Homo sapiens: one gene and its partner. Changing the gene in region 1 together with any one later gene gives a genetic interaction. Each region holds a gene or a part of one and is shown in the gene's direction. Other genes may lie near its edges.

Region 1 (7,043 bases):
GCGATTCTCTTGCCTCAGCCTCCTGAGTAGCTGGGATTACAGGTGCATGCCACCACGCCTGGCTGATTTTTGTATCTTTAGTAGAGAAGGGGTTTCACCATGTTGGCCAAGCTTGTCTCCAACTCCTGACCTCAGGTGATCATCCCACCTCAGCCTCCCAAAGTGCTGGGATTAGAGGTGTGAGCCACTGAGCCCAGCCCCTATTCCCTTGGGTTTTCCCCTGCTTTTAAAGCCTTTATTACTTGGGATTTTTCTGACTTTGGTGGTGTCACCTTAAAGAAGCTTCTGCTCAACCTTTATAATAGATACTAGGCAAAAAATTGTAAAAACCATGTATATCTATGCATAGACTTAAAGTTGATTCACCAAAGTCTTAACAGTTATAACATTTGGGTGGTATGATTAAATTTGATTTTCATTGTTTTGTGTGTATATGCTTTTTTAGAGTTTAAAAGACTGTCTATAATGAAATAAGCCTAGTTTTGTATTCATAAACACTTTAATTTTAAAATTAAAAAAAATTTTAAGTGGAGAGATAGCTGCAGGCTTTTCTGTGGGAGTTGCGTATCAGTTTGTGGGAGGATAGTGCCATAGAAACTGGCTAAAGGTGGGTAGAAGAGTTGTGAATCTAGTTTTCTGGAGGCAAGGGCATTACTCTTTGGCTATATCGGGGCTTTGATGAAGCTCCAGGGAGTGTCAGATAGGGATTGTCACCATTACTCTTTTTGCATTGCCTATCTCTGAGGAGATGTGAGTATATTTGTGGATTGTAATCCCCATTATGCCATCTAATTGTCAGGTTTTAATTGATAGATCCCATTTTTGAGAAAGAAGCAGGTCAATGTCAGGGTAAATAGTAATAGCTAACTTCTACAGCACTCTAATCCATTAAGAGGTCTTCTCTCTAGATTGGACTTCATTCTGGGTCCTGTTGAAGCTAATTTGAAAATCATGAGCCATTTGTCTGTTTTGGCTATGCTGGCATGATCCTCTTCTTACTTCCTTTTCACTCCTTCACCCACAGAGTTTCTGGAAAGTAACATAAGCTTGATGGGTTCTCGTACTTGGCAGTAATGGATTAGCTCTTTTTTGTCCTTTTGTGTGTGGGCTTAGAGCCCTGCTACTGAGGTTGTCTTCTTCTTTTTTAATAACTAGAATGTGAGTTGTGAGAGACCAGGGACCTTTGTCTGTTTTATTCAGTGCTATATCTCTAGTGCCTTGCACAGTGCCTGCCACATAGTAGTGCTAAGTAAATATTTGTTGAATGAGTAACTTTGACAGGAAGAAAAATGATCAAGAGTTCACAGCTTTCTAGGGCATAAGTATACAATTGCAAGGAGAAGCGTGGGCTGGACCCTAGTCTCCAGTTAATTTCTTTTTGATTTCATTGCCAGTTTGCTATGAGCAGTCATGAAATCTTTCTAGATTTTGTGGTAGGTGGTGCTTAGAGCTGGCAGATGAGAGGGTGGGTGGAAAAGGAAATGGACCTGACTATTCAAGTTCTATCAGCAAAGGGCTGATGTGAGAGTACTGGCCACTATTTGAGCCATGACAGTAGGAACCATTGTGAGTTAGATGGCTTTCAGGAAGGTGGTTAGCCATTTAACAGACTACCAGGATATTAAAAAAATAAATCTTCTGGGGGAATTCTTTTGCCTAGGAGGGAAGCAAGAATTACTATAGTAGTACCTTGATTTTCATTTATGGATTTTGTGGGAAGAGAAAGTGTGAATGTTTCCTTTTATGATATACGTCCTTGTTCTGTATTGAAACAGATGATGTAAATCTGGATGATTTACAGAGAAGAGTTTCTTTTTTCTTTACAGATGAACACAGGCTTCACAGTGGCAAACTCTGTCTGATTATCCTTACATGTATTGCAGAGGTAGGTCTCACGAGCCTTCTGCTATTAGGCAGTCTTTTACAAAGTGCTATCTTTCCCTGCCTCCCCTCACCCCATTACTGTCTCATGACATTTAGGGTCCTAAAGTTTAGGAGAGAAAATCTTCCCCCTTTGTATTATCTGTCTTCTCCCACTAGAGTGTAGTCTTCGATGAAGCCATGGATAGACAGGGTCTTGTCTGCTTCCACGCTGTTTAGCACTGTGTTTTTAAACTGTGGAGCAGTTTGTTTGTTTGTTTGTTTTGAGACGGAGTATCGCTCTGTTGCCCAGGCTGGAGTGCAGTGGCATGATCTTGGCTCACTGCAACCTCCACCTCCCAGGTTCAAGCGATCCTCGTGCCTCGGCCCCTCTAGTAGCTGGGATTACAGGCAGTGCCACCTTGCCCGGCTAATTTTTGTAATTTTAGTAGAGATGGGGTTTTGCCATGTTGGCCAGGCTGGTGTCAAACTCCTGACCTCAGGTGATCCACCCACCTCGGCCTCCCAAAGTGCTGGGATTACAGGCGTGAGCCACCATGCTCGGCAGTGGAGCAGTTTAAAAAATAAAAAAGGAGCTCAGGTTTCCTGTGATGGGGTGAAGGGGTGGATAGTAAAGCCAGAGAGGGGAATTGGAAACTCAGTAATTGCAGTTTGCCGAGGAACAAGAGCTGAGGGGAAAAAAGAAGAGATGCTTTGGCTTTTTAAGAAGCCACTTTTGGTTGGACTAATTAGGTTCAAACTCACCATGTATCTTGGTGACACACAGGCATGGCAGAACTTGAGTGAGTTTAGAGCTAAATTTATAGCTTCAACCTCCCCCTTTACTATTCCCCACTCTGCTCTTTTCTCTCTTAAGAAAAATGGTGAAGATATTCCACATGAAGTAGAGATCTCTCTCAGTCTCTCTCTCTTCATGTTCTCTGTGGAAAGATGACCTCCTTTTCACAAGATTAGGGGTGGCTGGTTATGGAAGAGCTGCTTATTAGCAGTGGGCCTGGTATAATTGCTTTTCAAAAATCTTTCTAAGAAAATCTTTAAAGGAGTTGTTTTTCACAAATTGTAACAGTTCCTTGTAATTGGAGTCTGTAGGCTTGTCAGATCTTCAGAAAAGGTATTGGGAAAGGGCCAAGGGATGTTTATTACTAATCCATGGTAAGAGGTTTTTGATTTTCTGTCAGTCTTCAGGAAAGCCCGGAATAGACAGGGTCTTGCCTGCTTCCACGCTGCCTGTGTAGCAGTTTGCTTCTGTTGGGCTGAACCCATTCCCAGCAGAGCACAGATTTTTCTTCTTGCTCCTAAACCCTCATGTGGAGCCTGCACATGAATCCTGCAGCCTCTGTGAAAACCTTAAACTATCACAAACAGAGCCAGCTCCTTGGGCAGATGGGACGGAAGAGGGAATAGGAAAACAGATTACTCTCATTCCTCTCAGCATCTGCCTTAAGTCCCTGCGTCTTAATTTTTATTGTTTTTGCTTGGAAATTTTTGACCAGTTAGAGATACACTGGGAAATTACACTAAAGAAAAATCTCATGGCTTAAGTAGGGTTTGACATAAGGCTCTAGGCTCATCCTATTAGCTGTCCAGCTGATCCTTGAAAGTAGTTCTCAAAGTCCAAGGATTTGTACGAAGTGTGATAGATTACAGTTTCTTAAATATAGCTCTCGCTTCTTACTTTTTCTCTATATTTTTATTAGGATCAATATGCCAATGCATTTTTGCATGATGACAACATGAATTTTCGAGTAAACTTACATAGAATGGTAGGTGTTTCTTTTGCTTCTTGTTTTTTCTTAGAGGAAATTTTTTGTATGTCGGCAGGGTTGGGATGAAATTGATCTTACTAGAACAAATGTGGGTGGAAAGTTGTGCCAAAGGGCTTTGCATGACGGCTGTTCAACAGACCCATGCTTGTTGTTGGGATTTTTGTGTGTCATGGAGCTGTTTCTTAATCAAGAGTTTTGGAAGATTCACAAGCGTGGCAATGATACTGGATTTCTTTTTTTTTTTTTTTCTTTTTTTGAGGGAGAGTCTCTCTCTCTCTCTCTCCCCCCCAGGCTGGAGTGCAATGGTGTGATCTCTGCTCACTGCAACCTCTGCCTCTTGGGCTCAAGCAGTTCTTCTGCCTCAGCCTCCTGAGTAGCTGGGATTACAGGTGGCTGCCACCACGCTCGGCTAATTTTTGTATTTTCGTTACAGATGGGGTTTCACCACGTTGGCCAGGCTGGTCTCCAGCTCCTGACCTCAGATGATCTGCCCGCCTTGGCCTGCCAAAGTGCTGAGATTACAGGTGTGAGCCACCGCGCCTGGCCTGATACTGGATTTCAATAATATAGGTTTCAGCAAGGAAATGGTTCTAAGCCTTTTGTTTTCAAAATGTAGTATAATTTTTGAGTGGCTAAGACTAGCTGCTGCTCAGATTTGTTCATCTGAGAAGTGGGCAAATAGAATATGGAGGATCAGGGAATTTCTTAAAGCTTGGAGGTATGTTAAAAAATATCACATTGAGGGCCGGGCTTGGTGGCTCATACCTGTAATCCCAACACTTTGGGAGGCCAAGGCGGGATCACAAGGTCAGGAGATTGAGACCACCCTGGCTAACAGGATGAAACCCCGTTTCTACTAAAAGTACAAAAAATTAGCCGGGTGTGGTGGCAGGCACCTGTAGTCCCAGCTACTCAAGAGGCTGAGTCAGGAGAATGGCGCGAATCCAGGAGACAGAGCTTGCAGTGAGCCGAGATCGTGCCACTTCACTCCAGCCTGGGCAACAGAGCGAGACTCCGTCTCAAAAAAAAAAAAAAAATTACATTGAGGTTTAGATGTAAAACTTTCTTTATTTTTTTGCAACTACTACTGTTGCTGCTTCTATAGGTGGCACCATCACTTCCTCTTTTTTTTATTATTATTATTTATCGTCAAAGAAAAACACCAGTGTACCTCTTTTGTCGTTAGTAATGCCACTTATATAACTAAAAGCAAAGTAAAACCAACAGTTTTCCCATTGTAGTATTCTCTAGTGCCCTTTGAGGTTGTGAATTGTAATTTTGTAACAGGCGTGCATTGATAACTGAAGCATTCACAAGTCCTCCCTTCCCCGCCTCATCCCATGCTACCTCATTCCTCTCCCACCATGTGAAAAAGAGAAAGAAAAGGAAGTATCCCTGTAATAGTGATTTTATTTGCACAAGGAACATGATGATGGGCCATTGGATGTCAGTGCCGGTGTCTACTAATTTCCTTTCTTCATTTTTTTGGTGTGAAGCCTATGAGACACAGGAAGAAGGCAGCAGACAAGAATCTTCCCTGCCGTCCTTTAGTATGTGCAGTACTGGGTGAGTGAGTATCATCAACATTGACATTGTTCTGTGACAGCGATAGGCTTTCATGATGAAGATGAAGAGTAGAACCTGTTTGATGTGCTTCTTCCGCAAATAAATTATTAGTTGTGTTTTTTCCCTGGCCTAAGAATCATGTTTATTGTTGTGTTTGGTAAAGCAACCCCAGTTATAGAGTGGTCAATAAAAGGGTCCTGTTGTTCAAAGAAAAAAGTCATTCCAGTGAGACAAATGGCTGTGTCTAAACTTGATACATGATTTACAAGATACATGATCAAGATTTCAGGCTGGGCGCAGTGGCTCACACCTGTAATCACAGCACTTTGGGAGGCTGAGGTGGGCGGATCACTTGAGGTCAGGAGTTTGAGATCAGCTTGGCCAACATGGTGAAAACCTGTCTGTACTGAAAATACAAAAATTAGCTGGTCGTGTTGGCGTGCGCCTGTAATCCCAGCTACTCAGGAGGCCGAGGCAGGAGAATCGCTTGAACCCAGGAGGCAGAGGTTGCAGTGAGCCAAGATCACGGCATTGCACTCCAGCTGGGGCGAGACTGCATCTCAAAAAAAAAAAAGATTTCAAATTCTTCCCATCCTTTCTTGGTTTGAATTGATGTGCTGGCTGGCCAGGAGGCTTGAAGTTCATGGTTTACATATACAAAACTTCCCCTGAGTATATTAAACTGAGATGAGGCTGACTGAGTTGACAGGTAGGGGGCTGTATCTTGGGTAATTTTGTCTGTCCAGAATTCTGCATTTTCCTCAGGGAATTAGCTGAATTCTTAATCCCATTTCACTTGGATATTCAGCCCCAGTTTCTAAATCTACTTAATTTTAGAAACAGTAATTAAGGCTGTATAATAAGCCTCTCTTGACCCAAAGCCCCACAGCCCATTTCAGTCAATATCTGTCTAACTGAGCATGATAGTAAGATGAGATTGACTGACATAGCTTTAGAGCTGAGTCTCTGGTTACACAAATGTGATCCATAATTTCTTCTCAGAGCTTGCTTCATTGTCTAGTCTCAGAATATGATTTCCCTTTGGCAGTCTGCATTAATGCCATGGGATGAAATATCTATACAATGAAATTTTCCATTTATCTGAATTTATTGGCAGGTCAGGGTATCCTTCTGGAGGTCAGCAAGTGAAATAATTTCTTATTACTTTACAAGTGGCAGGTGGTGAACAGTGTTACACAAAATGCGTTATATAAAATAAGTGTATATGAATAAAGATGTGGTTAGTGGATGCCGTTCAGTGTGAGTGCAAGGTGTACTCAGAAGCTTTTTTTCCAACTCAAAGACAAGAAATGAATTCCATTGTAATTGATCCAGTTTTTCTCTATTCCCCTTTCAGACCTGATGGTAGAGTTTATTGTAACACACATGATGAAGGAGTTTCCTATGGATCTCTATATGTAAGTACAAATATGTACACATTTAATGTGTACAAATCTATTTTAAAGAACTGAATGTTAGAAAATTCATGGTCTGTGTAGGCCGGGCGCCATGGCTCACGCCTGTAATACCAGCACCTTGGGAGGCCGAGGCGGGCGGATCACAAGGTCAGGAGATCGAGACCACGGTGAAACCCCGTCTCTACAAAAAATACAAAAAATTATCTGGGCGCAGTGGTGGGCGCCTGTAGTCTCAGCTACTTGGGAGGCTGAGGCAGGAGTATGGCGTGAACCCAGGAGGCGGAGCTTGCAGTCAGCTGAGATTGTGCCACTGCACTCCAGCCTGGGCGACAGAGCGAAGACTCTGTCTGGGAAAAAAAAAAAAAAAAAAAGAAAGTTCATGGTCTGTGTATACTTTAAGAAAAACACATTT
Region 2 (4,994 bases), on another chromosome or scaffold:
TTAAATAAGGTTCACATATTGTGATTGTGTTCTTAATTCTCTTTTTAAGTGGATGTTCCCCCACCCTCTCCTTTTCCCTTCCTTGCAGTTTATTCATGGAAGAAATTTGGTTTTGTGGATTTTCTCACAATAATGATTTTGCTTATTACATCTCCATGGTTTAGTTTAACAGTTTCCTCTATTTCCTGTAGTAGCTGAATGTAAAGACTTGGTCAAACTCTAGCTAGATTTTATTGAGGGAGTTGGGGAAGACTGCTTCATAGGTGGTGGTAGTATATTTTTCCATCTAAAGGTACATAATGTCGGTTATCTAATTCTTTCTTTAAATGTTTTCTATGTTCACATGGTAATTTTAGCCATGGATTTCATGTTTTAGTTTCAAGATCCTGAGAAATCAACATCTGAGGAACAGCTAATATTTAAAATTAAAGGAAAATATATTTTCTCCACGAAGTTGGTTGTAACTTTTGGCAATTCTTCATCAGGTGATGAATGCAGTATTGGTTCAGCCACAGACTTGACTGAAAGTAGCTCCATGGTGGATGGCGACTGGACAATGGTGGATGAAAATTTCTCTACACTCAGTTTAACTCAGTCAGAGCTGGAGCACATTTCCATGGAGTTGGCCAGTAAAGGGCCTCATAAATCCCAGGTCCAGCTTCGGTGAGTTTCTTGGCTATTTGAAATCACAGAATGCCTACTCAGAGTATTTGGGCAAATAGGTATGGGGCTACTCTCCTAATAATCATTGCACTTCTGTACATCTTATAGATCTTTCTTAGCATAAATCATTTTGTTTCTGCTTATATTTAGGTATTTGCTACACATTTTCATGGAGGCAGGGTGCCTAGACTGGTGCATCGTTATAGGCCTGATTCTTAGAGAATCCTCAATAATCAATCAGATTTTGGTTATTACACAGTCTTCAGAGGTAGATGGAGAGATGTTACAGAACATAAAGACAGGGCTCCATGCAGTGGACCGATGGGCCTCTACAGACTGGTAAGTGCTGCTTTCCTTAGGCTTGGTGTCCTTCCATGTCTTTTGGTGAATCCTGTCCTTTCACATTAAGGCCTAGTTATGGTTCATGTGTTACATTTTATTTATTTATTATATATTATTTATTATATGTTCATTTTTAAGCTACTTTCTTTAGTAATCATTCTATACCCAGCTATTTAAATGGATAATTCCATCGAGTAAGGTTACACTGTTGGTCAGTGTATAATTTATAGTGTGAATGTATATCACTGACTTAAGATTGATGCAGTGCAAATGAGCTTAGAATTAGACTGGAACTTCAGATTTGCATCCCTGTGAAATTGAAAGCAATGGTCTACAAATATCTACTTGAAAAGATTCAAACTTAAGGTCCATGTGAATTTAACATTCCATGGCAGTTACAAGCAAATCCAAATTAGAGTTGTGGTTGCAGTTAAGAGCCTTGGACTCTAGCCCTGTCTTTATTACCAGTTAATGTGTGTATTTGGAGCTAGTTACTTCCCTTACTTGGATCTGGTTTTCCTTAATTGGCAAATGCATTTAGGTTAAATGTTGTCTGAAGGTCCTTTTTCAAGTCTAAGCTCCTGTTGGCCTTTCAATTGTAAAATATAATTTTTAGTTGTAATACTGGTTCTAAAACATCAGCCTTTGCCCCTAATGCTTAGAAACTTAAGCCTCAGGCTTATGCAATGTGCAGCCCCCTCTGCTGGGCAGGACAGCCAAGAAGCCTTTCCTCCCTACCTTCTTTGCCTCCTCTCTCCCCTCCTAATCTATCGTCGTCTTTACCATATCAATGTTCAGTAGAAGTTCACCCGTAATGTTCTACCAAACCTTTTGAATTATGGCAGATGAGCTAATGTTTTTTTTCTCTACATAGTCCTGGATATAAGCCATTTTTAAACATCATTAAGCCACAACTGCAGAAGCTCAGTGAGATAACAGAAGAGCAGGTCCAGCCAGATGCCTTCCAACCAATAACTATGGGTAAGACTCCAGAACAGACTAGCCCCCGGGCAGAGGAGAGCAGGGGCTCCTCCAGCCATGGAAGCATCCCCCAGGGTGAAGTTGGAAGCAGCAATATGGTCAGCCGGAAAGAGGAGGACACAGCCCAAGCAGAGGAGGAAGAACCTTTTCAGGATGGGACTTACGACTGTTCTGTGTCCTAACAGTGAGGTTCCATCACAAAGGGGCAGTATTAATTAGCAGCAGCGTGCAGCTCAGTACGTTGTAACATAGTTGGATGATTTAACAGGAGAACTCAGTTCAGAGACTCTTCGGTAAGTATTAGTAGATTTTAACTAATTCTTTCTTGTCTAAGAAATCTTTTTGACTCCATAAAAATGTGATATAAAGCATCTTTCATAAAAAAATTTTAAGCTGCAGTGAAAAGTAAATATTGTACAGATGTACATGAGAATATTTTGGTTTTACTCAAAGGTTGGTAGCTCTTAAACCACAGGAATTGTTTTGCCCCAGGTGAGCTTACTTTTTCACTACTTACATCTTCTCACATTTCCCGGTTCTGCATTATGTCCAGATTGCTTTTTAAAAAATAAATGCTAAGGTGCTTGCTATAGTCTGTCAGGTACTTGAGCTACCTGTTTGCTCCCTTGGATACAGCTGGACTCTTTAATCAGTCCTCCTGAATAGATTGCTACCCTGGGGCACAATATGTGCCAGTGTGATGGAAACATTCTCCTTGGCTTTACTAGCCAGTCAAATCCCAGTCCAGAATTGATGGAAGCTATTTACCTGTGAGTTAATGTGCTTGTTTTAGCAAGCTTGATTCCCATTAGACCAATGTGGGCAGAGGTCTGAGGGGGTTCTTCTCAATTTTGCTGTTAGATACCACTAAACTATTTTGTATTAAAGAACAGTATCTTTTTGTGAATACTCTTGTGTAAATATATTCAAAGGCACTGTTCATATTTTAGGGCTTGTATTATAATTTGCAAGGTTTTAATGCTGGATTCTGCATGTCTACACATACAAAGACAGGGCTTGCTCCTCTGCAAAACTGAGGAAGACAGGTTTATTGGCTTGGTCATGAAGTAACAGAAATGGTCACACTGATCATGAAATGCAGCAAGTTTTGTGCAAATTAACATAGTCTCTTATTTATTGCTTTTGTAAATTGAATAAAGATGGACTTCTATGTAAATAGACTGCTGAATCCTGTATTACCACGGCTACTAAAAATTAGTGTGTAAAGAATGCATTCTTCATTGTAAACTTAAAGTATTTTATGTACTTCTAGAAATGACTTAAATTTGTTTTCATACATTATGAAAACAACTGCATACTCCTTAATTGCTTTAAACACCCATCCACTGTATGTAATTCTAATTACCTTATAACAGTATTAAGACAGCTTGTTTGTACTGTGCAATTTGAACAAGGAATGCAATGTTATTTTTTACAAAAAACAAACTTGTTTATTTTTATAATAACGATGTATTTGATGTGGACCAAATTCGTACCACTATCTAAAATAGCCTCTTTTCTCATAGTGCAGTTGTAGTTTAGAAACAAAACTTGGTCCTCTCTCCTTGCTTTTTAAAGTAAATGGCTAGATTTAGTTGTCTTAGCCAGGTTTCCTTTGAAGAGAAACTCAAAACCATTTTGAAACTGCTTAGTTCAGAATACATCGAAGTATTTAAAATTACTGAGTTGGGTAATTTACTATCATTTACTTTTTACATTACAAGTGCAATAATATTTCACAAAATGAAACTCCCGAATGGGTGGAGTATGTGATTATTGGTACCTGGTCCTTCTGGTGCTATTTTTATTTAAGTCTTTGTTTCAAACCACCTTTCCCTGAATCTTAAAGATAATGTTTTGCATGTGAGTACATGCAGCCCAGCAAGAAACTAAACTGAACTCTCTTCTCCTATCCTAGTCCATTAAGGAGAAGAACCAGCATTGCTTTTGTGTTTGGTGTGAATATTCAGTCAATAAAAATGATTTACCATTATAAAGAGCTGTGATCTTTTCAAGTATCTGAAATAAAACACTGTGCTGCTGAGTTCATCTCAAACATTCTTGAAAGCAGGGCACCAGTATAAGTTAACTGTATTCCTGTGGGTTAGGCCGTGAATGAATCATTTCTTTTATACAATATTCTTTTACAACTAATAGAGATAGGAGGCCCCCAGGCAAGAAGTTTGGCAGGTTTACAGAAAATTTGGTAATTTATTTGTTATATACCTTAATTTTTAAAAACCCATTTTTATTGTGGTGTTTGGTTCACATATCAACTGTTTAAGCCATAATTTTAGCCAATGAATTTAAATATTCAGTATAACTATTTGAGGTTTACTAGATGCATTTATTAATAAATTATTTGCTGAAACCAAAACAAGTCATTGGGGGTGTGGGAATAAAATCAACCTTTGCTTGTAATTAAAGTTGCTGCTATTTCTGTAATGTGTATTTTTCTCCCCTTGGTAAAGGGCAATAAAACCATTACACAAACTTTGGTTTATTCATCATCTCAGGTTAACAGCCACGAAAATCATCTTTTCATTATATAATTCTGCTTCTTAGAATTTTCCTTATGAAATGAAATTCAGACAGATTTATTTAAAATATTTATTTATATGTAGATTTAGAATGACAGCATCAAGAGTTCGCAACATCCTAGATGCCTGACAGTAAAATACTGGAGGAAACAGCCCATGTCGATGACATGGAAAATGTTCAAAATATAATGAAGGAATGACAGAAAATTATGTATACCTTAAGATACCTACCAAGCAAACAAAATTTTACATGTAAGTATAGAGGAACCTAGGCGTCATTTCTAATAAGCGGGATTAAAAAGTACTTTGACTTTTTCCCATTTTCCTAATTTCAGTCTCCATGGATTTGCCTATTCTGGACATTTCATATAAATGGAAACATATAGTATGTGAACTTTTCTATCTCACTTCTTGGCACCAAAGCATGTTGTTATTTTGGCTGTAGCCATCCAAGTTGTATATGAAGTA

What was found.
Region 2: changes in ARMH3 (region 1) and RIC1 are lethal when combined (synthetic lethality), as found in Homo sapiens cells (one study listed by BioGRID).

Annotation. Positions count from the first base shown.
Region 1 is NC_000010.11:101,990,139-101,997,181, reverse strand, and holds part of ARMH3 (armadillo-like helical domain-containing protein 3), read left to right. Parts: intron 1-1,826; coding exon 1,827-1,885; intron 1,886-3,578; coding exon 3,579-3,644; intron 3,645-5,143; coding exon 5,144-5,213; intron 5,214-6,570; coding exon 6,571-6,631; intron 6,632-7,043. UniProt on the Homo sapiens protein: Involved in GBF1 recruitment, Golgi maintenance and protein secretion.
Region 2 is NC_000009.12:5,772,079-5,777,072, forward strand, and holds the end of RIC1 (guanine nucleotide exchange factor subunit RIC1), read left to right. Parts: intron 1-485; coding exon 486-663; intron 664-813; coding exon 814-1,002; intron 1,003-1,879; coding exon 1,880-2,168; 3' UTR 2,169-4,479; downstream 4,480-4,994. UniProt on the Homo sapiens protein: The RIC1-RGP1 complex acts as a guanine nucleotide exchange factor (GEF), which activates RAB6A by exchanging bound GDP for free GTP, and may thereby be required for efficient fusion of endosome-derived vesicles with the Golgi compartment.